Homo sapiens: one gene and its partners. The protein of the gene in region 1 purifies or fractionates together with the protein of each later gene. This does not show direct contact. Each region holds a gene or a part of one and is shown in the gene's direction. Other genes may lie near its edges. The genes, in order: TAS1R2, LRFN3, ATP11C, ATP2B2, ANO6, ASPHD2 and OSBPL8.

Evidence for each region.
Region 2: the proteins of TAS1R2 (region 1) and LRFN3 purify together in Homo sapiens (affinity purification with mass spectrometry; one large-scale study listed by BioGRID and IntAct). This does not show direct contact.
Region 3: the proteins of TAS1R2 (region 1) and ATP11C purify together in Homo sapiens (affinity purification with mass spectrometry; one large-scale study listed by BioGRID and IntAct). This does not show direct contact.
Region 4: the proteins of TAS1R2 (region 1) and ATP2B2 purify together in Homo sapiens (affinity purification with mass spectrometry; one large-scale study listed by BioGRID and IntAct). This does not show direct contact.
Region 5: the proteins of TAS1R2 (region 1) and ANO6 purify together in Homo sapiens (affinity purification with mass spectrometry; one large-scale study listed by BioGRID and IntAct). This does not show direct contact.
Region 6: the proteins of TAS1R2 (region 1) and ASPHD2 purify together in Homo sapiens (affinity purification with mass spectrometry; one large-scale study listed by BioGRID and IntAct). This does not show direct contact.
Region 7: the proteins of TAS1R2 (region 1) and OSBPL8 purify together in Homo sapiens (affinity purification with mass spectrometry; one large-scale study listed by BioGRID and IntAct). This does not show direct contact.

The regions. Positions count from the first base shown.
Region 1 is NC_000001.11:18,842,661-18,846,160, reverse strand, and holds part of TAS1R2 (taste receptor type 1 member 2 precursor), read left to right. Parts: intron 1-3,500. UniProt on the Homo sapiens protein: Putative taste receptor. TAS1R2/TAS1R3 recognizes diverse natural and synthetic sweeteners.
Region 2 is NC_000019.10:35,939,109-35,943,162, forward strand, and holds part of LRFN3 (leucine-rich repeat and fibronectin type-III domain-containing protein 3 precursor), read left to right. Parts: intron 1-301; 5' UTR 302-317; coding exon 318-1,732; intron 1,733-4,054. UniProt on the Homo sapiens protein: Cell adhesion molecule that mediates homophilic cell-cell adhesion in a Ca(2+)-independent manner. Promotes neurite outgrowth in hippocampal neurons.
Region 3 is NC_000023.11:139,782,846-139,786,899, reverse strand, and holds part of ATP11C (phospholipid-transporting ATPase IG), read left to right. Parts: intron 1-1,600; coding exon 1,601-1,674; intron 1,675-3,632; coding exon 3,633-3,736; intron 3,737-4,054. UniProt on the Homo sapiens protein: Catalytic component of a P4-ATPase flippase complex which catalyzes the hydrolysis of ATP coupled to the transport of aminophospholipids, phosphatidylserines (PS) and phosphatidylethanolamines (PE), from the outer to the inner leaflet of the plasma membrane.
Region 4 is NC_000003.12:10,323,305-10,327,922, reverse strand, and holds the end of ATP2B2 (plasma membrane calcium-transporting ATPase 2), read left to right. Parts: 3' UTR 1-3,900; downstream 3,901-4,618. UniProt on the Homo sapiens protein: ATP-driven Ca(2+) ion pump involved in the maintenance of basal intracellular Ca(2+) levels in specialized cells of cerebellar circuit and vestibular and cochlear systems.
Region 5 is NC_000012.12:45,428,914-45,433,222, forward strand, and holds the end of ANO6 (anoctamin-6), read left to right. Parts: intron 1-191; coding exon 192-398; 3' UTR 399-3,436; downstream 3,437-4,309. UniProt on the Homo sapiens protein: Small-conductance calcium-activated nonselective cation (SCAN) channel which acts as a regulator of phospholipid scrambling in platelets and osteoblasts.
Region 6 is NC_000022.11:26,435,365-26,439,418, forward strand, and holds part of ASPHD2 (aspartate beta-hydroxylase domain-containing protein 2), read left to right. Parts: intron 1-4,054. UniProt on the Homo sapiens protein: May function as 2-oxoglutarate-dependent dioxygenase.
Region 7 is NC_000012.12:76,388,360-76,392,413, reverse strand, and holds part of OSBPL8 (oxysterol-binding protein-related protein 8), read left to right. Parts: intron 1-1,756; coding exon 1,757-1,994; intron 1,995-2,584; coding exon 2,585-2,769; intron 2,770-4,054. UniProt on the Homo sapiens protein: Lipid transporter involved in lipid countertransport between the endoplasmic reticulum and the plasma membrane: specifically exchanges phosphatidylserine with phosphatidylinositol 4-phosphate (PI4P), delivering phosphatidylserine to the plasma membrane in exchange for PI4P, which is degraded by the SAC1/SACM1L phosphatase in the endoplasmic reticulum.

The DNA.
Region 1 (3,500 bases):
CGAGGCCAGGTGCTGACAGGTGGCACTTGCTTGAAACTGGTGACTGCAGCAATGGCTGGAATAAACAGTGGGTTGAGAAAATATGAGGCAGGCCACAGAGAGGCCCATTTCTTGTTCCACTCAGTGGCTTTCCTTGAGCCTGAGGAGTCACAGACTTTTTAGAGCAGCCGCCAGCTCAGTCTCTAACAGAAAGGGAGTTTGGCGGACTTAGCCACTACCCAAAGTTGTCACTGATATTCATCTCTCTCTTCTGCTTACCATTCTGGGTTTCTTCACTCTCAGCCAGCATTTGGCTGCTCTCAGTCACTTGCCTGGGGGGTGATCCAGACCTTCTTCCCCAAGGTGTCTGGGCCCTTAGTTGCCTTGCATTTCTGGGCTGTGCCTGCTGCAGATTCCCACCCGCAGGTGCACTGGGATTGAAGCACCCAGGGTTGCCTGGTGAGTCCTTGGGTGCCAGACCTACTCCTTCCTACTCCACTTGTGTAGCAACCACCTCAGCTCCACCCACGAATCCAGGTCAGTTACTTCTTCCTTTCTTGGCCTTCTCATTCACTGGCATGAGGAACCCAAAATGACCACATGGTAATCGTAGAGCCCTATAGTGTCTGCTGGTGGAAGTATTCCCCCTTTGGGGACCAGAATCTCTATTCCAGCAGAGTGTAAGATTGTAGAGAGGAGAAGCACCAATGCTGCAATGGGTTCCTGAGAATAATGGTGCATGTAGCCAATCCTTCTGGTTGCTGGATACACATATTCTAGCTGTTGAGGCCACAACACTATACACAAGCCATTCATTCAAAACTTCATCTTAAAGGGCAGTGTCCCCACCTTGCAGGGGGTCCTGAAGATGGTACCTTAGCTGAGCTTTTAGTATGTCATCTCATCACCTGGTTAGATAGGATACTTCTGGGTAATGTGGTATATGTTAGGATCAGTGGAGCCTGTGGTCACATGCCCATGTCACACCCCTTTACCATGAAGTTGACTCCTGATCTGAGGTGATACAGTGTCCTGCATCAATAAATCATTTGCTCTGTAAGCCCCCAGATGGCGATGCTGCATTGAAATCAGGGAAGGAAAATTCCCTTCCTGGAATTTTCCCAGAGAGGAAAAGATCTGATGTAATAGATCTTTCAGCAGTTGGTTGGCTGGTCTTTTTGAAGAATTGTATCAAGTCAAGGGCTCAGCATGGGTGGGTCTCTGATGCTGGAATGTTAGGTGTTCTGCAATGGCAGTAGCTAGGTCAGCCATGATGAGAGGAAGCTCAAGCTGTTGGGTTCATATCTGTAGCCTCCATCCCTGACATCATGGCCACTCTGTGCAGGCCTTGGGGTGGCTGAGGACAAAAGCCAGCTGACCTTCATTGGACAAGTCAACCTTCTTCTTCTTCTTCTTCTTCTTTTTTTTCTGAGACAGTCTCGCTCTGTCGCCCAGGCTGGAGTGCAGTGGCACAATCTTGGCTCATTGCAACCTCCGCCCCCAGGGATCAAGAGATTCTCCTGCCCCAGCCTCCCAAGTAGCTGGGATTACAGAAATGCACCATCACACCTGACTAATTTTTGTGTTTTTAGTAGAGACAGCATTTCGCCATGTTGGCCAGGTTGGTCTGGAACTCCTGACCTCAATTGATCTGCCGACCTTGGCCTCCCAAAAAATGCTGAGATTACAAGCATGAGCCACGGTGCCTGGCTGGGACAAGTCAACCTTTTAATCTGGTTTCTATTACTCTGTGTTTGCTCTCTGGTTTGCATTAACATGAGACACAGAGATCTTCATGCTTTGTGCTCACTCTCATGGATCCATACATATACCTTTCCCCAAGCAACTTTGTCTCCATTCTTCCACTCTTGCTCCTTCCAGGCCCCTGAACAACCAGCCAAGCCATTCCATATGTCCAGGATCTCAAGAATATCCATCCTTCAGGACATCTCTCCATTCACACAAAGCAAACAACCAAGTGTCCTGCTTGCATCTCCACATACAAGCAGTATCTCCCATCATTACTGTCCTTCAGAATTCACCCTGAAAAAAGCTTTGTATCCCTGAAAAAAGCTTAGTATGGCAGCAGTCCACTGTCAGCTCACATTAATATATCAAACCAACCTACTTGTGAATCATTCCTGAATGTTCTCCTCTATTTATTTGTCATAAAGAATCTCTCCCTGAGGTCTTAGGTATGATTTGAGGGAGAGGCATTTGTTACAACAGAAATAGATACAGGAGTCACAATAATTGATTTAAGAAATTTACTTGGACCCACTGGCGCTTCTTGGATACCATTTCCCTTATATGAAGACTTGTTTTTATTCCTGCCTCTCTATAAGACTCTGTGAATCTGATAGTCACTTGATGTCCTGGGGTCAGGTACTCAATTTCCATGATGGCCCAGCAGGACTCCAAGAGTTGATTTTCAAGTAGTGAGTAGCATGTTGTTGTAGAAGGCATGGCATTGTTGCATCTCTCTCTTTGGGCTTGCCCATTCTTATAAGCATAGATAACTCAAACATCATCAGATCTCCTCGATCATGTGGCCCCAGTGGCAGGATCGCTTATACAGAAGCCAGGGCCTTCTTCAGAGTCATTTTCTGGACTTGTTACCCTCTGCCTTGAAACTGAAAGCCTTCTGAATCACCTGATAAACGGGTTGCAGTAGTATTTCCAGGAGCAATTTATGTTGTCCCGCAAATCTAAAGAGGTTTATAAAGTTCCATACTTTCATGGTAGCAGGTGTAGGGTGGATGACTTGTCTATTATCTTAGAATGGATGTCCTGGCATTCTCTGTACCTTTGGCCTCCTAAAAACATCACCAATGTAACAGCACCCCCAACCCCAAGTTTTGAATCTTTACAAGGTTTATCTCCAATCCTCTGGCATTCATAGGTCTTACTTGGATATAAAAGTGCTTGCTACTTTCTACTAACCAGGTCCAATTACCACGGTGTCATGAATATCATAGACCAGCGTGATATTCTGCAGAATGTCAAGATGAACAACTTCCATGTGGACTACATTGAGATCGAGAGTGAAAGAGTAAACTCTACGATAAGATAGTGAATGTCAGTGATTTGATAAGATAGTGAGTGTTAATGATGTAACATCTTTCTTCTTTTTAAATACAGATGTTTATAATAATAAATTTCCCTCTTAAGTATTGTTTTCACTGTACCCCATTAATTTTGGTACATTAAAATTTTTTATTTTTGTGATAAAAGACATATAACATAACATTTACCAATTTGTTTATTTTTAAGCATGCATTTCAGTAATGTTAAGTATATTCGCATTTTTGTGCAACAGATCTCTAGAACTTTTTCATTTTGCAAATTTCTAACTCTATTCCCATTGAACAACTCCCCATTTCTTCCTTCCTCCAGCCTCTGGCAACCATCCTTCTACTTTATGTTTCTATGAGTTTGACTACCTAAGACACCTCATATAAGTAGAATCATACAGTATTTGTCTTTTTGTGGGGTTATGTTGTGTTTTTATTTTCATTAAT
Region 2 (4,054 bases), on another chromosome or scaffold:
GCCACCATGCCTAGCTAATTTTTAAAAATTTTTGTATAATAGATACACGGTCTCACTTTGTTGCCCAGGCTGGTCTTGAACTCCTGGCCTCAAGCCATCCTCCTGCCTCAGCCTCCCCAAATGCTGGGATTACATGTGTGAGCCACCGCGCCTGGCCTTCCTCTGGCTTTTGGTCACATCTGACGGTCTTTGACCAGCCCTTCTGCCCTCAGCCCACTGTGACCTTCTCTCCTGGTCTCAGACCACCCCCAGCCCCTGCAGAACCCCTCTTCTGCCCTCACGCCTCCCCTCTTCTCCGCAGGACACCCCTGCCCGCGATGGCCATCCTCCCGTTGCTCCTGTGCCTGCTGCCGCTGGCCCCTGCCTCATCCCCACCCCAGTCAGCCACACCCAGCCCATGTCCCCGCCGCTGCCGCTGCCAGACACAGTCGCTGCCCCTAAGCGTGCTGTGCCCAGGGGCAGGCCTCCTGTTCGTGCCACCCTCGCTGGACCGCCGGGCAGCCGAGCTGCGGCTGGCAGACAACTTCATCGCCTCCGTGCGCCGCCGCGACCTGGCCAACATGACAGGCCTGCTGCATCTGAGCCTGTCGCGGAACACCATCCGCCACGTGGCTGCCGGCGCCTTCGCCGACCTGCGGGCCCTGCGTGCCCTGCACCTGGATGGCAACCGGCTGACCTCACTGGGCGAGGGCCAGCTGCGCGGCCTGGTCAACTTGCGCCACCTCATCCTCAGCAACAACCAGCTGGCAGCGCTGGCGGCCGGCGCCCTGGATGATTGTGCCGAGACACTGGAGGACCTCGACCTCTCCTACAACAACCTCGAGCAGCTGCCCTGGGAGGCCCTGGGCCGCCTGGGCAACGTCAACACGTTGGGCCTCGACCACAACCTGCTGGCTTCTGTGCCCGCCGGCGCTTTTTCCCGCCTGCACAAGCTGGCCCGGCTGGACATGACCTCCAACCGCCTGACCACAATCCCACCCGACCCACTCTTCTCCCGCCTGCCCCTGCTCGCCAGGCCCCGGGGCTCGCCCGCCTCTGCCCTGGTGCTGGCCTTTGGCGGGAACCCCCTGCACTGCAACTGCGAGCTGGTGTGGCTGCGTCGCCTGGCGCGGGAGGACGACCTCGAGGCCTGCGCGTCCCCACCTGCTCTGGGCGGCCGCTACTTCTGGGCGGTGGGCGAGGAGGAGTTTGTCTGCGAGCCGCCCGTGGTGACTCACCGCTCACCACCTCTGGCTGTGCCCGCAGGTCGGCCGGCTGCCCTGCGCTGCCGGGCAGTGGGGGACCCAGAGCCCCGTGTGCGTTGGGTGTCACCCCAGGGCCGGCTGCTAGGCAACTCAAGCCGTGCCCGCGCCTTCCCCAATGGGACGCTGGAGCTGCTGGTCACCGAGCCGGGTGATGGTGGCATCTTCACCTGCATTGCGGCCAATGCAGCTGGCGAGGCCACAGCTGCTGTGGAGCTGACTGTGGGTCCCCCACCACCTCCTCAGCTAGCCAACAGCACCAGCTGTGACCCCCCGCGGGACGGGGATCCTGATGCTCTCACCCCACCCTCCGCTGCCTCTGCTTCTGCCAAGGTGGCCGACACTGGGCCCCCTACCGACCGTGGCGTCCAGGTGACTGAGCACGGGGCCACAGCTGCTCTTGTCCAGTGGCCGGATCAGCGGCCTATCCCGGGCATCCGCATGTACCAGATCCAGTACAACAGCTCGGCTGATGACATCCTCGTCTACAGGTGCAGGGTCCAGGCACTGGGGTAGCTTGGGTGGGGGAGTGAGGCAAGGGGAGGGTTGAGGGTACACCTACTAATACCCTACACCGAAGCACAACTGATAAGTGATGCTGGAAGGTTCCAAAAGAAATCAGAGAGCAAAAGTAAAAGAAATCAGGCAGCAAGGATAACAAGACTCTGGCAGAAAGGGTCAATGAAATCTGACAGCAGTGATAAAAAGAAGTCAGACAAGAAGGACGAAGTAAATGAGACAGCAAATGTTAAAATATATCAGGCTACAGGGCTAAAAAAGATCAAGCAATAAGGATAAACGAAATCAGGCTGCATGAGTAAAAAGAAATTAGGCAGCAAGAATAAATAGTAGTAGCAAACATAAAAAGGAAACCAGGCAGCGGGAGGAGAAAGTAATCAGGGCAGAAGAATAAAATGTTAATGGGCAAGGGTGGGTGGGGAAGATAAGGGGATAAAAATAAATTTAAGTTGTAAAGATAAAGAGAGAAACACCAGGTTTTCCAGATGACAGGACTAGATACTAGCTGGGCTGCAGGAAGAAAAGGAGATCAAACAGGAAAGCACAGGGAGCCCAGAAACAATGAAATAAGCAGCTCTGTTAGAAAAAGAAATCAGACCAGAGGTTAGAAGGAAATTGCAGGGAGGAGGTTCGATAGAGACTGGGCTTCGGTGTGTGTGGTGTGAACTATTCCATGTTTCAAGTTCTAATATAGTGACATCCAGATTTTTTTTTTTTTGAGACAGGGTCTCACTTTGTCGCCCAGGCTGGAGTGCAGTGGTGCAATCTCGGCTCACTACAACCTCCACTTCCCGGGTTCAAGCGATTCTTGTGCCTCAGCCTCTCGAGTAGCTGGGATTACAGACGTGCACCAGCACGCCCAGCTAATGTTTGCATTTTATTTTTAGTGGAGACGGGGTTTTGCCATGTTGGCCAGGCTGGTCTAGAAGTCCTGACCTCAGGTGATCCACCTGCCTCAGCCTCCCAAAGTGCTGGGATTACAGGCGTGAACCACCACACCCAGTGTAGATTTTTTCTTTTCTTTTTTTTTTTGAGACGGAGTCTCACTCTGTTGCCCAGGCTGGAGTGCAGTGGCACAATCTTGACTCACTGCAAGCTCCGCCTCCCAGGTTCATGCCATTCTCCTGCCTCAGCCTCCCGAGTAGCTGGGACTACAGGCGCCCGTCACCATGCCCGGCTAATTTTTTGTATTTCTAGTAGAGATGGGGTTTCACCATGTTAGCCAGGATGGTCTCGATCTCCTGACATCGTGATCCACCCGCCTCGGCCTCCCAAAGTGCTAGGATTACAGGCCTGAGCCACCGCGCCCGACAGATTTTTTATTTTCTAAATCAAATCAAACCTAGTTCAAGTTCCTTTTGCCAGGTAAACAGAAATATCCAGTTTGCCACACTTGTGGGGGATTCTCTTCTCTCTCCTGTTGTTGCAAACACAGAACCTGGGGTTTACACACTCCAAGAGGTGGCTCAGTCCAACTTGTTCCCCCAAGCTGGAGAGCACTCAGCACATCTGCAGTGACCGCATGTGGTCAGCAGTGGTGGCTGCTGACCTAGGTGCTGTTGACACCTCTTACCAAAGTCCAACCTTGCATGGATGGACTGCGGCTGTGGGTGAGTCCCTGTCCTCACGGCCAGGCTGGGCCAAGGGTGCAGCCCCAAGGCTGACTGTAAAGACTGGACCTCCCCAGGGTTGAGGACTGTTCCTTGGGGACCTAGTAGTACCTGGATGTCCTTTCCCTCCCTTGGGGCCAACACCTCAAGAAAAGGCCACTTGATTTCCATTTCAGTCCTGGCAACCCACTGAGCTCATTCTACTCCCTTTCTCAGACATGACTCGGAAGATTGCACGGAAGTCCTGCCCCTGAAAATCACACAAGTCGGCCAGGCGCGGTGGCTTAACCCCTATAATCCCAGCACTTTGGGAGGCCGAGGCAGGTGGATCACCAGGTCAGGAGTTTGAGACCATCCTGGCTAACACGGTGAAACCTCGTCTCTACTAAAAATACAAAAAATTAGCTGAGTGTGGTGGCACGCGCCTGTAGTCCCAGCTACTCAGGAGGCTGAGGCAGGAGAATTGCTTGAACCTGGGAGGCGGAGGTTGCAGTGAGCCGAGGCTGTGCCACTGCACTCCAGCCTGGGTGACAGAGTGAGACTCCGTCTCAAAAAAAAAAAAAAAAAGTCACACAAGTCCTGGCCACCTTGCCAGGTGGGGAATGGGATGAATGCTGTCCTAGACAGTCACCCTGCCCCAGGCGGCCACGGAGTTCCCTGTACCTCTCTCATTAGAATAGCCTA
Region 3 (4,054 bases), on another chromosome or scaffold:
TTTCAGGTCTCTAACACATGCTACAGGAAAAATCAGTGAATATATGTGAAACCTTCTGCTATCTAGTGTCCAAGCAATCACTCTGGGATTGCAAGCCCAGGCAATAAAGGCAGCTTTGCTGTAAACCAGAAGCCTTGTTTGGTTCGGAATGTTCAGGTGTGAGCCTCGGGGCAAGTACTCTGATGCTCCAGTGTCTTCACATTTCCTCTTTTGCCACAAAGACCCTAATGAACAAAGCCACCTTATCTTAATGGTGGATTTTAATTAGGCTCTGTGATTAATTTGAATTTCCTCATCTGAACTTGAAATATAATTATGTTATCTGACTTTCATTCTGGCCCCTAGGATCTCCTGAGACCCATCTCAGAAACCTGTAATATGTTTACAGGTACTTGGGTAATGCACCCTTTTGGAGAGAGATTCATAGAAGCCCAGAGGAAGGTTCTTGGTCTGACTGACAGGGACCCAGGGTCATTGTCAGAGTTTAGATTCTAGCCCATCTGCAACAGTGCCCACATCTGGCCAACAGCAAACCAGATGCCATGTTAGATGTCTTATACATATACTCCCGCAAGACTAATGACCCCCTCACTCCCACCAAAACAAGCTATGTAGTAAATACTTTTTTTAAAAAATACTAGTTGTTTATTTTCAAGGAAATATTTCCTCTCACTTTTTCTAATAACCAACTCTTATTTTAACTCTTCTGTGTCTCTCCATTGATTAGTTCAGCCATCCACACACACATTTGACCAGTCTCATCATGTCATTCCACTGTTTAAACCCTTTTATTGGCTTTCTTTTGCTCTTACAATACAATCCCAAATTCCAGAAATGGCTCACAAAGATGTGTTTCCAGCCCCTGCTTACCTTTCTTGCTTTATCTCTTACTATTCCCCTATTGATGAGTTTTTTGGGCATTGGTGAACTACTTAAAGTCTTCCATGGGCCATGTGCTCTCATGCTGCCGTGCTCATTCCCTCTACTCAGAATGCCATGGCCCCCTTTCTTCATCATATTACCCTTGCAGAACCCAGCTCAGGCATGTCCTCTTCCAGGAAACCTCCTTTCAGATGACTTCCTTCTGTGTTCTTATATCTTCCCTGTAAGTGCCTTTATTACAGTATTTGAGAAACTAGAAGGGTAGTTATCTCATTATGCTCTGTCTCCCTTATCATATGGTGACCCGCATAAGGGAAGGGACTCAGGCAGATTCACCTCTATTCCCCAGCACCTAGCACTGTGCCTGGCACTCCATACATAAATGCTGCTAAAATAATTGGCAGAGTGGGACTGTTTCTAGACCCCTCCAAATATGGCTTGGTGGGACAGCTCTTTATCTTCCATTTTTATGTGGTCATTCTCCTTACCATTTTAAGTAATATACTGAGGGGCTATAAATACCCCTTAACTAACACTGGTGTCCTCTGACAGCATGTTCTATGTTCAGAGAAATTCTGAGACAAAGGAAAGTACCAGTTGTGCACACAACCAGTGCTATCTGTTGATTTAAGATGTTTAAATATCTTAACATATTTCTGTTGTGCTTTATTTTTCTCAGTATATTCTAGGTTTTTTACTTTGCTCATTTCTCTTAAAGATATGAACTTCTTCACACCTTAAACTTTGATGCTGTCCGGCGACGTATGAGTGTAATTGTGAAGACTCAAGAAGGTACATGTCTGAAAAGCTTGAATTTTTCTCTTTGTTGATTTGTAGGCTTATTGGTTGATTCACTCTTTCAGGAAAGAGAATCATTTCATGTAGTAGTGTAGGATTAGTGAAAGTCATGCAAAGCAGTAGCTTTTGCATATGCTTTCATGTATTTTTTTAAGCACAGATGTTCTGTTTACCAAATTGTTAGTGACAGAACCCTTGTTATGACAGGGTGTGCCTTTTCTTGGTAGCAGAACCATATCCCTCTGCCTTGGGTGTTCGAACAGGAACTGAAAGGATGACTTTTATATGGTTCAGGGTACTGACCAGTCTACCAGTAATGTTTACATGCAGCCACCCAGCATAGTTGGATGGTTTGGGATTACTAGCAGCAGAATCCTTGAGTATAGGGAGTTGCTTGTTATCCCTCACTGACCTTCCTGGTTCCCCTACTGCTTGACACTCCCTGGAAACAGGTGAGGTAGAGAGGACTAAGGGCCTGGTTTCTGGGAAATGGCATTGCAGTTTCACTCCAGAGCTCAGGTTCTTTGTTGAGCAGAGTAAAGCTTGCCCTTTGCAGGGGAACTGGTACTGTAATCCTGGGCTCCCTCATGTCTTTGGAGGCACCATGGTGGTTTGCCTTCTGCTCAGATTCTGCAAGACCCATGGGCGAGCAATCCTGCTTTATTCGAAGGCTCTCAGATACGTGTGTGTGTGGTGTGCCGAGGTGGTTTGTTTTCTAAAAATTTTTGATTTATTTCCCAGTAATTTACGTTTTACTATTAAATTTTCTAAATTCCTTAATGTCAGAATGGGAGGATACAGACAGATCCTTGGGGGAACATATCCCACTTAATTCATACTTTGTGGTGTGATTGCAAAGTCATGAAATTGATTTTAATAAGTGACCATGGAGTTTGTTTTGTGAATTTTAAAATACACTTTGGATGTGTAAGAATAAATGAAAAAAAAAACACAACATTTCAAATACTTGCTATTCTTATGTGTGCATGTCCACATGTTCTACAGCAAATGGTGAAATGTCTGTGGAACTGGTCTACAAAGGTCATTGACCTCAGAGCTACACTTTTTAATTTGTTGACCTCGGTTGTTTCCCTTATAAGGATAAAGTGTCTGTCTTAGTGCACAACTGTGAATATTTCCTGGGTGTGTGAAGTGATCTAAAGCTGCAATTATACCAGCATTCTACAAAGCTATTCTCATCAGTAAAAACTATCAAGCCATTGTTTTAGAAGCTAGTTAATATAGTTTATTCAAAATTATTTCAGCTTGTTTGAGCTTGAGCTTTCTTCTTGACATCTGTAGATGCCATATGTGTGCTCTAGGCCATGGCTTCACTGCATTTTTTTTTTTTTAAGACACGGTATTACTCTGTCATCTAGGCTGGAGTGGCAAGATTATAGCTCACTGCAGCCTTGACATCCTGGGCTCAAGCAATCCTTCCACCTCAGCATCCAGCGTAGTTGGGTCTATAGGTGTGTACCACCATGCCTGGCTAATTTTTTAATTTTTAGTAGAGTCAGGGTCTCCCTGTGTTGCCCAGGCTGGTCTTGAACTCCTGAGCTTAAGTGATCCTCCCACTTCAGCCTCCCACAATGCTGGGATTACAGGCATGAGCCACTGCACCTGGCATACATTTTCAGAAGAAATTCAGATGCAGCTCCTTGACACAAGCCCAGCCCTCCATGAATTGGTGGGAGGAAGTATATTTTAACAGAGGTGCCTATTGTAAACTCTGGCTTATTAATTGTGTTCATAATGACCTTGAAGAGGTGGTACATGCCTTTCTGACAGACTGAAGGCCAAGATTTCTCATTCCATTTAGGTGAGTATTGCAAGGTGTGCTCAGAATATACAACACTTGGGTGAGAGAGACCGCTTTAAAAGTTACTCTTACTAAAACCACAATACCAGCCTTAAAATTCTAAGTCAAGTACTATGGTTCTTTATTTTAGGAGACATACTTCTCTTTTGTAAAGGAGCAGACTCGGCAGTTTTTCCCAGAGTGCAAAATCATGAAATTGAGTTAACTAAAGTCCATGTGGAACGTAATGCAATGGTGAGCCTATACTCCTTCCCCCACCAATAAGTAAGCAGAGAAATGTTGAAAATGACTATGTTTATTGGATTTCTGTTTAAATGACAGTTTAAATACATTTTAGCTTATTTTTGTGGTCTATGTTTTGTATTTGGGGATTTGATAATATTACTTTTTTTTATCTTAATATAAAACATTTTCCTGGAGCAAGTTTCAGGTCAGAATTTGCAGCCTTAAAAGACTTTTCAACAACCTTTGTTAAAAGAACTGTTACTTCCTTTTTCTGAACCTAATTGAATGTTACCTTTTCAGTTGTAATTTCTTCATTTTTTCAGACTA
Region 4 (4,618 bases), on another chromosome or scaffold:
CACTTCCCCTGGGTTGCATCCTGGATGTTTTATGATAGCCATGCTCTGATTTTTGCCTGCTATTTCCGTTCAATAATGTCACTACCGTGAGAGGCTCAGGCAGAAGCCAAATGCTACCGAGTTGCCATCCTGAGGGGTTTAACAACATGCTCCGTAGACGAAGGGAGAGGAGGAGAGAAGGCTTCCTGGGTTTGCAACACTAACGGCCATCCGGCCCAAGGATGCCAGGATCTGCAAAGCACTGCTCGAAGACTTTTCTCTCAATGAAACTCGCTTGAGTTTACTAAGAGCATTTCAAAAATAGGTTCTCTTTGGCACTGTCTGTACAGAGATTGAGGTAGTGTTGAAATATTATAAATGGTATTGTGTTGATTTTTTTTTTTATTTAGTAACTTACAGGTTTGTTTCCTTATTAATGGCAGCATCTGAGCTGTTGGCATATTGGATGAGGATCAGTATGGCTTGCTGCTTTTATTTTTATTTTTGAAGAAGAATAGCCTTTTTCTCTGCACTATTTAGATCCGAATGAACCTTATGATGTGTATATTGAGATGTACTCAGTGTGATTTTAAACCAAATTGTCTTCCTGTAGTCACAATATATACTGTAGCCTTTTAACAGCAAGTCTTGCTTTCCCAAACAGAAAGCCATTCTGAAACCCTACAGTATCACAGGTGAGAAAAGGTGGTTATTTTTTCCCCAAGACAACAGCACTAGTAATCCCACTTAATAAGAGCTTATTTAATTGGATGTCAGCCTCTTAACTGCTAAGCACTTTGTGGGTCTCAGCGTTTTTCATAAAAGAACTTTTGTATTTAATACAAAGTTTGCTTTGAGACTTTTCAGCATATGATCTTTTTTCCATAAACTTGTACAGTGCAAAAGACATTTTGAATACCATGATCGATGATGTCCCATGCTTCGAGGAAAACCAAACACTTTCCGCCTCTCTTGCAAAATCCATTCCTCATGCTGACCCTCCTCACGATGGCTGTGTCAGCCCAGCCCCTTCCCTTCTCCAGGCCCAGAGAACTCTTCCACAAACAAGATGAGAGCCACTCGGGAAAAGAGCCATAGTCAACTGGGAGGGCCTACATCTGGATGGCGGTGGAAAAACTTGAGGGTTTGGGGTTCAAAGTCAGCCCATCCCACCTGGCAAAATCCTCCTGGAAGGAGGACCTTCAAGAGCGCATCACCTGAATGTCGTGAAGAAGTATCTCTGAATGTATCCAGGAGAGGAACTGCATAACCAAAGGGGTGACCAGCCCTCAGATGTGCTTATTGGATTCCAGTACAAACGCCACCAAAGCCAGCCCACTGCTCTCCTACAAGGAAGGAAAGATCTGCACGTGTAAAACATGGGGCAGCCTTGGAACATGGTGTTTTTTGGAGTTTCCTTTCTCACAGTTTTCCATCTCCCCACTTCTTTGATCAGTCATGTGTCCGTGACCTCGTTCCATGACATCAGGATAGCTGTGTTTGCACACCATGCTCCATGTTCATTCGGAGCCAGGAGGGGTTCTCAGTGGAGCCTGGCTTAGGGAACAGGGAGCGATGGAAGAATGCCAACATTAGCGTTGGTCTTCTCTTGTCAGGAATGAAGGATGCTTGCACACATGCACCCCCTCACTCTCACACTTGCACACATACACACACACACACACGAAATGGTTGGTTTGTCAAAACTCACTGTAGTACATAAAGCTTGCACTCTGCGTCCTATATCTAGCAGCATGGGGTACGTTTGGCAGTTCACTCCATTAGGGGGTAAATAATTTATGACCATTCATCTGTTTTTATGAATTTTTTTATCTAGACAATAATGTAAATAAAGAACTCACCATCTCTGTTCATTTAATACTATGCAATGGTTATGCTTTCAATCGCTGGCTCTTCTGACTCGTGCAGTGTGGTTCTGAAATGTTTGTGGTTTAAAAAAAAAAGCAAAAAACAACATCAAACAGAACATAGTAAATATATCTGTAATGTATACTTTTTTCTACTTTGGGACTGCATCATCCACATAGCTTCTTTTCTGTCCTCTAGACAAGGGCTCCAGGAGTAAGTGGCAGATTTGGTTCTGAGAGCTAAGCTCACCAACTTGTCTCCCCCTCAACAGATGAGGGAAGGGCAGGGAGCCCGTTCAGTGACTCCTGGCGCTGCAGAATCACTCATCTTTGGAGGTGAGCAGAGAGAGCTCTGAGGAGTTTCCTTCTTGCAACTCAGGCGGAGCTTTCTTTAACTCAGGAGCAGCCTCCATTGCTCCCGCCAACCCCTCACCATGGCCCCTTGTCCCCTTGTCCCAACCATAGCATAGAGATGACAAGAGAGAGGCAGTCCTATTTCTGAGACTGGACCAATTAAAATGACTGCACTGGCTCAAAGGACTCTGAACCTGTCTTGTCCTGGGTCCTCCAGTTGTTGGAAGCCACTCTTTTCCCCAACCATGCTGAAATGCCACCTTTACCACACACTGATGTCTTACATAGACTTAGATCTATTTCTGGAACTTCTCTTCTCTTCGCTTACTTGGGTGTCTCATCTGGCACCAGCCATACAATTTTAACTATTGTCAATTTCTAATGTCTTATTATGTGGTGGGATGAGTCCCTTCACTCTTCTTTTACAAAATTTCCTAGTTATTCTCTCACATCTATTCTTCCACATAAACTTTAAATTGTGCCCAGTCCTCCACCCCCTGTCCCATTCCCACCCCCAAATTCTGGGCTCTGTCATTCCCTGTGCCATCATCTTCCCCCCATTGTAATTACTGTCCACTCAGGGCTGTGAAATAGACTATGTTCTGTAAAGAGGGACAAAAAGGGCATCCTGATCTTGAGAGAAGCCTGCTGTTCCTCCCATCATTTCACCTGCCCCCTAAGCCCAGGAGTTGTCATGAGAGGTCACCAGGCCCCCACTCAATCTCAGCTTGGGAACCAAAGTCACCCACCTTGGTTGTGTTGGGGTGGACCCGCCATCTGTCCCTGGTCCAGACGAGAAAGAGGAGTCTCTCCTAGGCCTGGAGCTGGGAAAGAATGTGTGGCCCAGTTGTCTGCACTTCTAATTCTCATCATGGAGAAACCTTTATTCCTATCTCCCTTTCCTGAACTGGTTTTTTGTTGTTTTTGTTTCATTTTGTTTTGGGGGGATAGTTTCTTGCTCTTTAATTTGGAGTCTCCAGTACCTTTGGGATGCAGGCAGTTCTTGCCTGGGCCTTCTCGGAACCCTCACTCCCCTAGCCCACTCTTGCGCTACCTGCAGGAGGCTGCCAACCTGGTGCATTCTGACAAGCCTCCCACCCAAATCTCTCTCCTGCCATTGTGTCCAAAATCCCACCATTAGAGGCTCTTGTAGGGAAGAGCGTTTCTTGAAGGCTTTTAGGCCTTCCAGAGCCAGGAGGGAAGTCAGACAATAGCAGGAAGTCCCCAGGCCTTTTCAAAGTTCCAAACCAAGCTCTCCTGATTTTAATGTAGAGATCATACCAACCCAGGTGGGGGAGGAGGGTCCCCAGCCCCAGGCAGCAGCCATCACCCCCTCCACTGAAAACAATATTGGAGGCTGCTTTGGGACTGCCCTTCTCAGCCCCCTAAGTCTGTTTTGTAATGCCTGTGGTGCTCTCCCTCCTGGACCTTTCCTCTCGGGGGTCACCACACTTTGCTAACTCTTGTGTGCACATATTTTATAATAGAGTAGCGAGGGAATGGTGCCGCCTCCAGCTTCCGTAAGCTGCCCGGGCTCTGGGGGGCTCTGGGACAATCGGGGCTGGGAAGTGACTGTGCTCTTATTGTACACTCTTTATTTCTCTGTATCTTTGGCTTGTGCTCTTTGTAATTAATGGGATTTGTCTGCCTTTTCAACACTATACTGAGCAATAACAATAAATGCACACGTGGAAATGCAGACACGGTACACATCACAAGGCCTTTTTCTGAAGGACAGCTGGGTCCCCGCCCTTCGTGGAGTTGAACTCAGGGGGAAACTGAGTCCCTGGGAGGGAAATGCACTTTGCCCAAGGGCCCACAGCTCAGCGGGCAGTCTCTCTCCTTCCACTAGATCACACCTTTTGAACACCCACCATTTGAGGGAGACAGGCTCACCCTGCCATGAGCCATTAACCTATGAGGAATGGTTGACCATCTCATAGAAGAAGACTGGGGAACGGGGCCTCAGGACGAAGCGGAGGAGGTTTGGGGGCAAGGGGTGGGGGGGCAAAAATCAGGGAAAGTTGGCCTGATTTGGGGTCTGGATTAACCAGAGGGAGGAGATGCGGAATACAGACACTGGATCTAGGTGGCACCCCCCTACTGGGGAGAGGGGTAAGGCAGAGGGAAGCCTGGCACCTGAGGAGTCTGGACTTCACAAACCTCTGCTGAACATTGGCAGAGAAAGAGAATATGCCCAGACCAACAAGTAATCCCTAAGGTTGGCCCAAGGGTTGAGAGTTACACACACACTCACACACTCACACAGCTCTTCTTAGGTTGAACTGATCCCCAAATCAAGCGCCATAGGCCCATCTGACTTCCATACGCAGTTTCATATCCAAGGGTTCATTTAATCCCAATATCAACCTTCAGAGGAGGTATTATTATAATTCTCACTCAAAAGAGCAGGAGAC
Region 5 (4,309 bases), on another chromosome or scaffold:
ATGTGTAAAGTAACAGTAACTGCTAGAGCCACACTGTTGATTAGACACAATGGCATTAGCGGTTGGTTGTGTGTGTAAAATGTCCACTGCCTTGTCCAGATAAACTGCCATAATGACAAGCAAGAATGAAAGGAACTCGGTGTTCTCCTCCATTTCTTTGTGAGTGACATTTTTCTTCTTCTCTTCCCCAGCACGTCATCTACTCTGTGAAATTTTTCATTTCATATGCAATTCCCGATGTATCAAAACGCACAAAGAGCAAGATCCAGAGAGAAAAATACCTAACCCAAAAGCTTCTTCATGAGAATCACCTCAAAGATATGACGAAAAATATGGGGGTGATAGCTGAGCGGATGATAGAAGCAGTAGATAACAATTTACGGCCAAAATCAGAATAAGAGCTTTATGTTCTGAGAAGCACTTTAAGGAATTTAGCTTTGTCAAAATATATTAGGAATCACTAATGAGAATGTGTAAGTTAAATCACTTTGGCAAATATGAGTCTCAACTATTGCCATTTCCTCATGTATTATTTTTCAGTTTCAGCTAGCGATGCAGAAACTGGAAAATGTAAAACTTAGATCATGAAGGGCATAAAACTTATCACCCGGAAAACCTCAATGTTACCTTTTTCTGATAAATTGGAATTTTACAGAAAAAGTCCCTCAGTGTGCTTAAAAACCACCCCTTCTAAAGTAGAATGGATTCTTTTTTTTCTGTTTGATTATTTTCATTTCTGTCTATTCTCAGGCGCATGATCTCCTTTATTTTTAAGCCATGTTTCATTTCTTCACTTGGCTAGATCTGTTCCAGGGTCATCTTTTCCTTACAGTACCATCATTATAGATTTAATTTAATAGCTTTCATGTGATTAAAAATAGCTAACTAGACTCAAGGATTCACAATATTTAGGTGTATTTTCAATACCTCCAGAAAGGAAACCTCAGTTAATCAGAGGAAATAGTTTCAGTCTTCATTTGAGCATGTCTTTCCATCTCAAAAAAATACTCTTAGTAGGTTGGAGTGAAGATAGCAAGGTTTTGAAGCATATTTGTCCTAATCCACAGTGACACTTTTTATCTTCCAGGAGCACTCCTAGGAGGTTCCGTGCCTAATCAATGTTGACTGCTTTGCAGATCTCAAGGGAATAAAATGACAAAAGCAGGGAAAGTTACAGATTCAAACAGCATTTTAACTCATGTTGATCTGGATAATTAATCTTTTCTAAAGATGTGTAGTTTCTTGGAAAACAGTGATATCACATGATTAAAATTACATTTTTATCAACATAATTGTCTGGAAAAGATAAGCCCCTCAATTTTCTACCAGTTGACTTTTATTCATTAGATACAGAAGGTGCAGTATTACACATCACCAGCTGCCTTTGTGAATGGCTCACTACACAGCCATTGGGGTACAACTGTGTGCATGGGCAGAAACAGCAAGTGCCCTCATTGTGGTCATTGGGTGGGGAGTGCCTTTTGTCAAGGAGTCTGCAGGAATTGGCTTATTTCTGTATGCCAAAGTGATCAACACACCAAAGTCTCTGCCATAAAGAATGTGGCTTCCTTGCATCCTCCATCCTGTTACTCTGGGCCCAGTAATTTGATGTAACTGTCTGATTGTACTAGAGACAGGAGTATACCCAGCTTATTCATAATCAAGTAAAGAGACTCAGATTAGATTTGATTTTTTAGCCTCCTCTAGAGCCAATCAGGCAGTTAAGAGTAATAAAGGAAAAGGGTTTGGTCACAAACCCTACCATTATCTGGAGATTACTTCCTGCTGCACTCCTGTCTTGCCATGCACGTCTTGCCCCCTCACTTTTGCTCAGCCTAGCAGTCTACTTCACTTTATTGCCTTGTAAGTGTCAGGCCTCCTGGGCGCTCTGGAAAAGACAGGGAGCCAGGCCCTCTCACCCCTACTGGTAACAGGTCATTGCTGGGTGCACAAGAGGGAGGTGATTTGCATCATGGTCATGCTGCATGGGCTTCACTGGGATGCTGTTAAACACCAGAGGAGCCAACCTATCAGAATCCCAGCAGCAAAGGAAAACTCAGATTTTAGAGGCTTTTTACAATAAAGTAGCGTAACTCTAGGTCATGATTGATTTCAAATGCCTGCCATGAATGATTTGTAAGTAATTATGTAGGATCCATCAAAGCAGTATTGTAGGCTTTTGAATTGTCCCAGTGGATCCGGGACCCCATTTCACTGTCTCTCTTGATCGTGTTAATGATGCAATCAGAGTTCAAGACAGGCCCCATGAAGTCTGACTGCACTGGGATGGAGAAATGAATTTCTTCCCACTGAAGGAAACTCTTTCTCATTCGCAGCCAAGACGGGAGTGCCACTGTTCCTCTCTTCACTCCTGAGATACTGCTTCTGGAAGCGGGTGTCACTTCCTCTCTAGTACCTCTTCTCTTCTCTGAAGTGTGTGACTATCTCCTAGTGTTTAAATTTGGCAGTTACTCGCCATGTATGTCAGCATAGAAAAGGAAATGTTTTTACCTTATCTCCTGTATGTATGATAGAACTTAAAAGAAATGTGCATTTGTTTTCATAGCCCCAGCAGAGAAAATCCTCTTCATAGATTAAATGTGCTGCTGTGGACAGGAGGGGAAAAAAAACCCTCTACATATTGAAAGGCACCAAATGTAATATCTGACACTGTTAAGATGCCCAAAAGAGCAAAGTTGTAGTGGAGATGCAGGGTCATTTCCCCATGCCATCCACAGTGTTTGTTAGTGAGTCCACGGCTGACTTGCAGTGATAAAGAAAAGCATGGAGCTGTGTCTGCAGACAATGGTGGCTGCATCTGTAAGTGGCTTCAGAGGCAGCAGCCCTGGGGAAATTGATGGGTGTGGCAGTGGACCTGTGAAGAGGGAGAATCTAGCCTTCAGCCTGTCCAGTGTTAACCACTAGAGAAACTGAGCTTTATATCCTTTTTTAATGCCTGTGAATTTTAGCATATTGAAACATTAGAGCAAATACTCAGGGGATTTTTCATTAAACATCCCTCAGATAATTTAGCTATATATCATTAGAAAGGGAAAGCTATCATTTTTATTTTAAAACTAAACAAGGCCATCTTATAAACTGTCACCAAAGTCTTCCCTTTTTTATTGCATGTGTGCCTTGAATTTCATAAAACATTAATTCACAATGGGGGTCAGAATGTACTCTTGTTGAAACACTTCTTGTACCATTTTATGTTCATATTATGTTTGAGAGGGTAAAAATGTATGAGCAGCTTAACTGAAGTAGAACTATTCATGATGCTTTTCACACATTGTGGCATAAGATGTAAAGTTTGTAATTAATGTTAATTTCTGTGCATTTTAATATTCTTTTATAATTATTAATGTTAATTTCTGTGCATTTTAATATTCTTTTATAATTATGAGCATTTTAATAAATTCATTTTTACAAACAATAGTATGGTCTATTCTATATTGTCTTAACGTTTTTAAGGAAGAGAACATATATCTGCTATTTACTAGTGGCCAGTTGTGTATCACTTAGATAAATGTGTGCTTTTGTGTAGATTTTTCACAGCCTTCACTTCAGAGATTTGCTATGGATTTTTAAAAATTATATTCAGTGTATTAAGGTTACAGATCAGAAAAGCTAGTTATTAAACTCAGCCCAAATCCTATTCTTTTCATCAATCTAGCAAATTTTACCACTTTTTACCAGACTTTTGAATAATGTTTGATTTCACCTACTAGTTTAATGAAATGTGTTAAAATATCTGCAATAGCACTTATAAATGTAGCATATTCCATTCATTTCCTTTTTAAAATACTCGTTATATGACCAATAGTGACCGAGAGGACGTAACTGGCAAAACTAGAAACGTCTTTCTCTTGCTGCCTTCTCTCTATAGGACACCTTTCCCAGAACCATTTAGGTTGTGTTCCCTGTCTCCCCTTCATTACTGAGAGGCAATATGTAAATGGACAATGGCCAGATCATATGTAAAAGCAGAACTCTATCCACACCCTGCCCCTGCTATCTGCAATAGTCAGCCCAGAGAGCCAGCCTGCAGTAGGTTATACTAACAAAGTCAGAGTGCTCTCTCCAGTTACAATCCAGGAAACTAAAGAATAACTTCTGTAACAATTGGCCCAATATGACCAGGACTTGATGAATAACTGACAGCTTCCCTAATTTTGGTCCCGGCTTATACCTTAGGACCAACCAGAGAAAGCCAAATATGCCCTGCTAATCATCGCATAGGATACCCGCTTCTAGTTAGCTACCTACAGCTTCCCACATCAGTGGCCTCCAATCAGGCATAGCGGAA
Region 6 (4,054 bases), on another chromosome or scaffold:
CCTGGTGAGTGGCGATAAAAAGCTCGTCTCTGGGATGGTGGCATCACCGGTTAGTATCTCAGATTAGAGTGTGCAGAGACAGCCTTGGCAGCGTCCAGCTTTACAAAGTTCACAACGCTGCTTCAGCTTCAGTAGGGAGGAAGGAAGAGCAGCAGGAGGAACCTGGTGCATGGGTTGGAGTGGGAGTTTCATAACCACGTTCTGCAGAGGAGCCTCAGGGCTGCCTGGGAAGGAGCCGGAGCTGGGGGCCCCCGAGCCCTCTTCACCCTCAGCAGCTCTGCTTCTCCTGCTGTCTGTGTGGGGGTTCTGAGTAAGATGTGGTTTGGATGGAGGATATCACTGCACTAAAAGAAAAGAAAAGAAAAGAAAAGAAAAGAAAAGAAAAGAAAAGAAAAGAAAAATATAATGAGATTTGAGCAATTGACATGGTAGGAATTTCAAGAGTAAAGGGCGGACTGGGTGGAGGCTTTGGGGGAGGTGGCCTGAATTCCTGGTCAGCAGTCAGCCGTGAGACTTTGAGCAGGTCACTGAGTCTCTCTCTGCCTCAGTTCTTCATCTGTAAAATGGGGAGATGGTACTTACTTCACAGGATTGTTGAGAGGATTCAATGAGTGGCATCTTACATGGCCCCTTGGCAGGATTCCTGGCACGTGACAGCATTTGATGAATGGGAGCTAGTAGCTATTATCAAGGACTGTGTTGGACCATGTGAAAAATGATCCATAAGACATAGACCCTGCCCCCAGGAAACAGTGGGAAAGGAACAGGCTTCGGAAGCAAACAGATCTGGACTCAGGTCCTGGCCTCGCCCCATTTGCTGAGTGACCTTGGGCAGGGCTCTGAACCTCCTTAAGCCTCCGTTTTATCTTCTCTAAAACAGAGATGACGATTCCCACTTGCTGGCTGTTTTGAGGAGTGGGAAGTAATATGTGTAAAATGCTTGGCAGGTAGAGGGCAGTGGACAGTAAGCTAATCTAAGTGATGGGATGATAATCCAGGTGATGGTCATTAGCAAAACTGCTGTGCGAGGCCCCAAGCCTCACTTGGCTGCAGACGGGGTGCCCTGGGGAGGTGGGTCTGACACTGGAGGATCCCCACACAGAAATCAGGTGCCGCCAGGGTGGAGCGAGGGAGCGGAATCATCCCCTGGGGCTTGGGGAAGCCGGGTCTAGGCTTGCTGGGGAGGCCAGTAGTGTGGGCTGAGGTTGGACAGGTCAGGTGGGAGCAAACCTCAGAGGCCCTTGATGCCAGGCTTGAGAATGGAGGCCGTGGGCAATGGGGAGTGATGCTCTTCTTTTGAAAGGTTTGCCTTTATGTATTGTTTTAAAACTTCAGAATGACATCTGGGGAAGGGCATTTGAGGACTGATGTGGTAGAATTTCAAAGAGGTGTGAGTAGGAAGTGATGGTAGCAAGGAAAATCTGGGGTTTGCTTTCTGTAGATTAACACTTGTTGTTCATCTGTATGATATGCATGCATGTGTGTGTGTGTGTGTGTGTGTGTAAAACATGCCCACGCTGGCTCACACTGTGGCCTGTGGCCTGTCATTCCTTTCTCAGCCCAGCTAGGTACTTGCCAGAAAAAGTAGGCCCTCCATGTTCCTGTAGATAGCAGGAAACCTTCTTGGAAGACGTCCCACTGTGGCGTGGCTTGTTCTCCACGGCCAAGGCGAGCTCCCTGGTTGGGTTTTCTCAGCGTTTCCTTCTTTACACTATCATGCCCACATTAATATCCACCCAGGAAGGAAACAAAGGTGTGTCGGATTTATGTGACCTTGTGTGTTGACAGAGAGGGAGTCCAGAGAATGAGGTCAGAAGCAGGATAAGCCTGGTGCGTACCTGGTGGCCACACCTCTGCTGGTTACCTGGCTGAAGGTAGAGGCACCTGCAGTTCCAGAACCGTGCTCTTGAAATGCCAATGCTTGCTTTTCTTCTGCCTTCTGCCTGAGCTGTGACTGATGGAATTGTCCCTGTGGACCACTGAAGACCCAGCCACTGCTCCTCACTAACACAGCCCATTTGTTCGAGACATATTTGCTGAGCCCTGCTGTGAGCTACTTCTAGAGGTGGCATCACCTAGTCCCGACTTCATATGGGACCACAGGACAGCTTCAGGCCCACCCCCCACTCAGCATCGTACACAATGCTGGGATATTCCAGATGCACTGCCACAAACTTCCAGAAAACCACCTCTGAAACTCACCAGGCAGATGTTACCAGGGAGGCAGATACTTCATGAAAATGCATGAATATGTTCAGCAAATTCTAGCTAAAGAAGCACAGTTAGACTCTTGTTTTTCTTTTCTGCATGTCATCAGATTTCTAGGTGGTCTAGCCGGGTGGTAACAGTAGATCAGCTCATGTTCCCCTTGCCCACCCTGAGTGCCCGGTTGCCAGCCGCCTGAAGTGGGGGCCACTGGTGGACACAGCCCTTTCTCTACCCTCCTTCCTGCCTCTTTCAGGGCTCGGTAGGGACAGAGCAGCAAAGCTTGAGCCATAGAGGAGCATATGGGACTATCTGAGGCCATGTGTGGGACCTGTCACTGTCCTCAAGAGCCACTGGAATGATCTGTTTAGGGAAGAATTGAGCTCTTCTGCCAACTAAGCTGGTTTGTGGGCAACAGGCAGGAATGGGGGCAGGAGCAGAATGAAGGGGAGGCGGAGAACAAGAAGCAGGGGGGTGTCAAGCCAGCAGGCCAGGCCATTTTTCTATCGCACCGTGGCACGTGGCGATGAATCATTTAGTGGCCCAGAGAAAGGGGAGCTTCTTTCTGAAACCCCGGGGTGGCTGTCCCTGCAGAGAACTGCCCATTCCTAAAGGCCTTCGCCACCTGAACCAGCCAGTAGGGGCACACGCCAAAGGAAAACGTAGCCTCTGAGTCCCTCCATCTGGGCGTCTTTACAGCCCTGACTCCCCCAGCTGCTGTTAACCATAGTGGGAAATCATGGCTTCTGTCAGGATGAGCAGTCTCAGCTGATTTAATGAAATGTACTATTGAGAGTTGAAACATATTAGGGTCCTCTTAGAGGGACAGAACTAATAGGATATATATATACACACAGATATATACACACATACATATATATACATATATATACACACACACATATATATACATATATATAGATACACACATACATATATATACATACATATATATACATACATATATACACATACATATATACACATACATATATACACATACATATATATACATACATATATATACACACATATATACATATATATATACACACATATATATACATATATATATACACATACATATATATATATACACATACATACATACACACACACACACACATATATATATAAAGGGGAGTTTATTAAGTATTAACCCACATGATCACAAGGTCCCACAATAGGCTGTCTGCAAACTGAGGAGCAAGGAAAGCCAGTCAGTTTCCAAAGCTGAAGAACCTGGAGTCCGATGTTTGAGGGCAGGAAGCTTCGAGCACTGGAGAAAGATACAGGCTGGGAGGCTAGGCCAGTCTCACTTTTTTATGTTTTTCTGCCTGCTTTATATTTGCTGGAAGCTGATTAGATTGTGCCTGCCAGATTAAGGGTGGATCTGCCTTCCCCAGCCCACTGACTCAGATGTTAATCTCTTTTGGCAACACCCACATAGACACACCCAGGATTAATACTTTGTATCCCTCAATCTAATCAAGTTGAAACTCAGTATTAACTATCAGACATGTTAACTACAAGAAAATCAGCAATCAGGCCAGGCACAGTGGCTCAAGCCTGTAATCCCAGCACTTTGGGAGGCCGAGTCAGGTGGATCTCTTGAGGCTAGAAGTTCGAGACCAGCCTGGCCAACATGGTGAAGCCCCATCTCTACTAAAAATACAAAAATTAGCTGGGCACGGTAGTGCACACTTGTAATCCCAGCTACTCGGGAGGCTGAGGCAGGAGAATTGCTTGAACCCAAGAGGCAGAGGCTGCAGTGAGCTGAGATCATGGCACTGCACTCCAGCCTGGGCGACAGAGCACGATTCTGTCTCAAAAAAAATAATAATAAATA
Region 7 (4,054 bases), on another chromosome or scaffold:
GTGTAGAAATGTATTTCCTTGATTCCAGCCAACGTGATTTACTTTATCTTTCCCAAATATAGCCATGCTAATTATTCACCTTGTCTGTGCATGATGTCCCTTCTATTAAGAATGATTTCTGCCTACTCCTCCTTACGCTTTTCTCCTGTCTATATATTCTTCAAGATCAGTCTCAAATATTACATCATGTGTGAAACCTTATAACTATGAGACATAATCTGTCTTTCTATAGAGTAACATGTTTTTAGTAATGGCACTGGACTTAACTCTACCTGGTATTTGTGAAATTCATTTATATTTCTGTTTGGAATGGAACTGTATCCTATTTGTGGTTTTATTCCCTGAAGCATTTATTGTAGTTAACACTAAAAAAGCATTTCTCCAAGGAAACTGGGCAGTAGTGCAAAGACTTTCTTGAGATTCAGGTCTTTTTGTTGCTTTGCAGGAAAAACATTAGACTTTTCTATTTCCTCCCTGTCCCCACCCCTTGGCTTCTGCTCTGTAACCACTTTCATCAGCATTGAGGTTGCTCTTCTCAAAGTTAGACTGCTATTCTCCTCTTCTTCATATTGCCTGATTTAGACATTTCTTCCCTATCATTTTGCTTGTTTCTTTTTTTTTTCTGTCTGTATTACTTTAAAAAATTTTTTAGAGCCAGGGACTCACTCTGTTGCCCAGGCTGCAGTGCAGTGGCACAATCATAGCTCACTGTAACCTGGAACTCCTGGGCTCAAGCCATCTTCCAGTCTCAACCTGCCCAGTAGTGAGAACTACAGGCCTGTATTACCACACTGGGCTGGCTGGCTGGCTTATCTATTTATTTATTTATTGAGACATAGTCTCACTATGTTGCCCAGGTTTTTTTTCTTTTCTTTTTTCCCCCACTCTCTTTAAAATCTCCATTACCTGACCTTTTATGTTATTTCTTTGCAGACCTACGATCTGGAGCTTTATCTTAATCCCAAGTACCTGGTGCCCGAATGAGATAGGATGGAATGGGGTGGGCTACTGATAGAGGAATGGGTATTTGTTGGAACCTCTTTCCAAGACTTTCCCCCTTTTGTACAGATTTTTTGCCCTAATCACTTTAAGTGAGAATAGGGTAGATTAAGCAAAACTTACTTGATTTTAGTCCATAGGTTAATTTCTTTCAGCTGAAATTTTCATTTTTAATTCTCTCTGGATTTTGGCTCAGGATTAAACCTTTCAGACGAATAGAATTTAATATAATTGTTTATCATTTACCATTTTCATATATTTTTCTTGGACTCATGTGAGGTGACTTTGGAAACCTTCTTATACAGGTGGAAAGTCATAATTTATTTGAGTTCAGTTGAGAATCTGATTATCTGGACCTGCATTTTTTCTTCATACCATAAGTGACAGTGAGATTGATGCAAGTGATGCTGTTTGAAAAACTAAGAAAAATATCTAACAAGAAGTCTAAACTCTTGGTTTTGGAGGATTTTAGCCCCAAGTGGTAGAGAGGCAAAGAGCTCAGAGTGTCATCTTTTTGCATTTCTCTAGGTTTTTAATTTTTCTATGCCTCTGTTTACTAATCTGTAAAATGAGAATAATAATACTACCTATCTCATAGGGTTATTTTGAAGATTAAGTGAATTAACACTATGTAAAACACTTAGAACACTGTCTGGCACATAGTAAATTCTCAATAAATGTTGTATATAATTATTATTTATGAATTGAGCATTCTTAACATCCTTGATTCTTCCTCCTAAAAATTCTTTCCCTTAAGGTTAAATGATAGTGAAATTGAACGACAACATTTTAAGGACCAAGATATGTATTCTGATAAATCTGATAAAGAAAATGATCAAGAACATGATGAGTCTGATAATGAGGTGATGGGGAAAAGTGAAGAAAGTGACACAGATACATCAGAAAGACAAGATGACTCATATATCGAACCTGAGCCTGTTGAGCCTTTAAAGGAGACTACCTACACTGAACAGAGCCATGAAGAACTTGGAGAGGTAAAAGTCTGCTATTTTTAGAGGTTCTGGATTTTCATATTCTTGGGAATTCTTAAATGAAATTGAAGATATTATTTGCTTGATCTATTGCCTATTTTTCTGTGATAGAATGTGATATTTTAAAAATTGCATACATATGAAATATATTGGGATTTACAAACAACTAAACACATATACTCACATAAATACCAATATATTCTATTAAATTTAAAGTTTACATTTTCTTCAAGCTTGATTTTGAAGTAGGATATTGCTTGATGTCATTGCCAGGTGCAAAGTTGCAAGGAAACGTGAGTTTATAACTTTGTTATTGCCAGTGCATCATAGAAGTAAATGTAGTATAAAATAATAGGCTATAATATTTTTGTAGTGGATCTCTTGTATATATTGTTCACTTTGATGTCTTTTTCAGCTACCCTTTTTTACCTAAGTTTTATAGCTATAGATTTTATTATTATTTTTTGTTTCCACATTTAAAGAATGCTTGGAGTAGTCCTGAGAAGAGTTCATATTTTCAACATTAGCTGGCTTGTTTACATATCTGTCTGAAATAAATATAATGTTTTGGTAATTTTCATTAATTGATAAAGGCAGGTGAGGCTTCTCAAACAGAAACTGTATCTGAAGAAAACAAAAGCCTTATCTGGACACTATTGAAACAAGTCCGTCCTGGCATGGACCTATCCAAGGTGGTTCTGCCTACATTTATTTTGGAACCCCGTTCTTTCCTGGATAAACTTTCAGATTACTACTATCATGCAGATTTCCTATCTGAGTAAGTAGATTCTTATTTCTTAAAATAGACAATACTTCATGATTTTAGAAATTCTCAAGAATGCTATTTTCAATTATCGTTTGTTTCCAAAATCAGGCTCTAATGAGACATCACTCTCTGTTCTCTACCACTTCTGTGGTTGACCCTTAGTAAGAAGCATGTTTGATACTTTGCTATAATGTTGCCATTTATGAAGTTAAATTGAGATATCATAAGCTCGAGGAAAACAAGAATTCTACCCTTTACTCAACAACACTGCCGTTATAGGCTCCTTAACCTCAGTTCACTAACCTAACAGAGAGAGAGAGGTGATTGGCATCATTTGTTCTCCTCTACAAAAACACTTGTTCAGTCCCATCCTGGGGCATCTGTGTTTGCTCATACTTGTCTGTCTGCATGCTTGTGAGGTATGTACGGCTTACCAGAACTAGAATGCCCTGCCAGTTGCTAGCTTTTGGAACAAATCCTTATTTTCTTTGCTTTTCTGAAGCCGCCAGCTGATCCTGGGTGTAATTTTGAAGAAGGCACACCTAAAGGAGGCAGAGGAGGTGCTATCCACCTCTGTCCCAGCAATTTCTTGGAAAACCAGTAAACTTTGCAAGGAACAGCAACTTTGTGTCCATGCTTCCAATTCTTACCTGATGCCCCTATTCCAGCAATAATGGTGTTTCAAGGCACTGTGCTTTCTGTGCCACTGATATCTGGCCCTGCGACCTAATTTTTAGAATCTTTATCAAGACTTATTTTCGGTTTTTGTCTATAAATGGCATGAGCGAACATTGAAAAAAATAAGCTGAGTCAAAAAATAATTGGTAAACTGGGAAATTTTTGCAAATTTCATCGTAGACAAAATGTTAACCTCCCTAAAAAAAGCTCTTAAAAATTGAATGAAAATGATTCTATAGAAAAGGAAACTTACAGAAAAAGGAGTGGAAGAAATTACTGGGCAGTTGGAAAATGAAGAAATAGGAACAGTCCTTAAACATGTAAAAACCTCATGCAAAATAAGGAAAATGTACATTTGAATTATAGTAAGTTATTGTTGTTTATCCACCACATTGACAAAAAGTCAAAAAGCTTTTATATCCTCGTTCTAATATCTTCTGCACTTTTGTCGGTCTAGAAATTCATTTCTCTCAGAATGTAAGGCAAATTCCTGTGAATCACAAGATTTTCTTGAGAGATGCCCCCTGTCTCAAATAGAAAGATTGTACTTTTCTGGCATTACACACTGTTGCCAAGATTCTGTTGGCAATCAGGGACTATCATACACTACCGTGGGCAG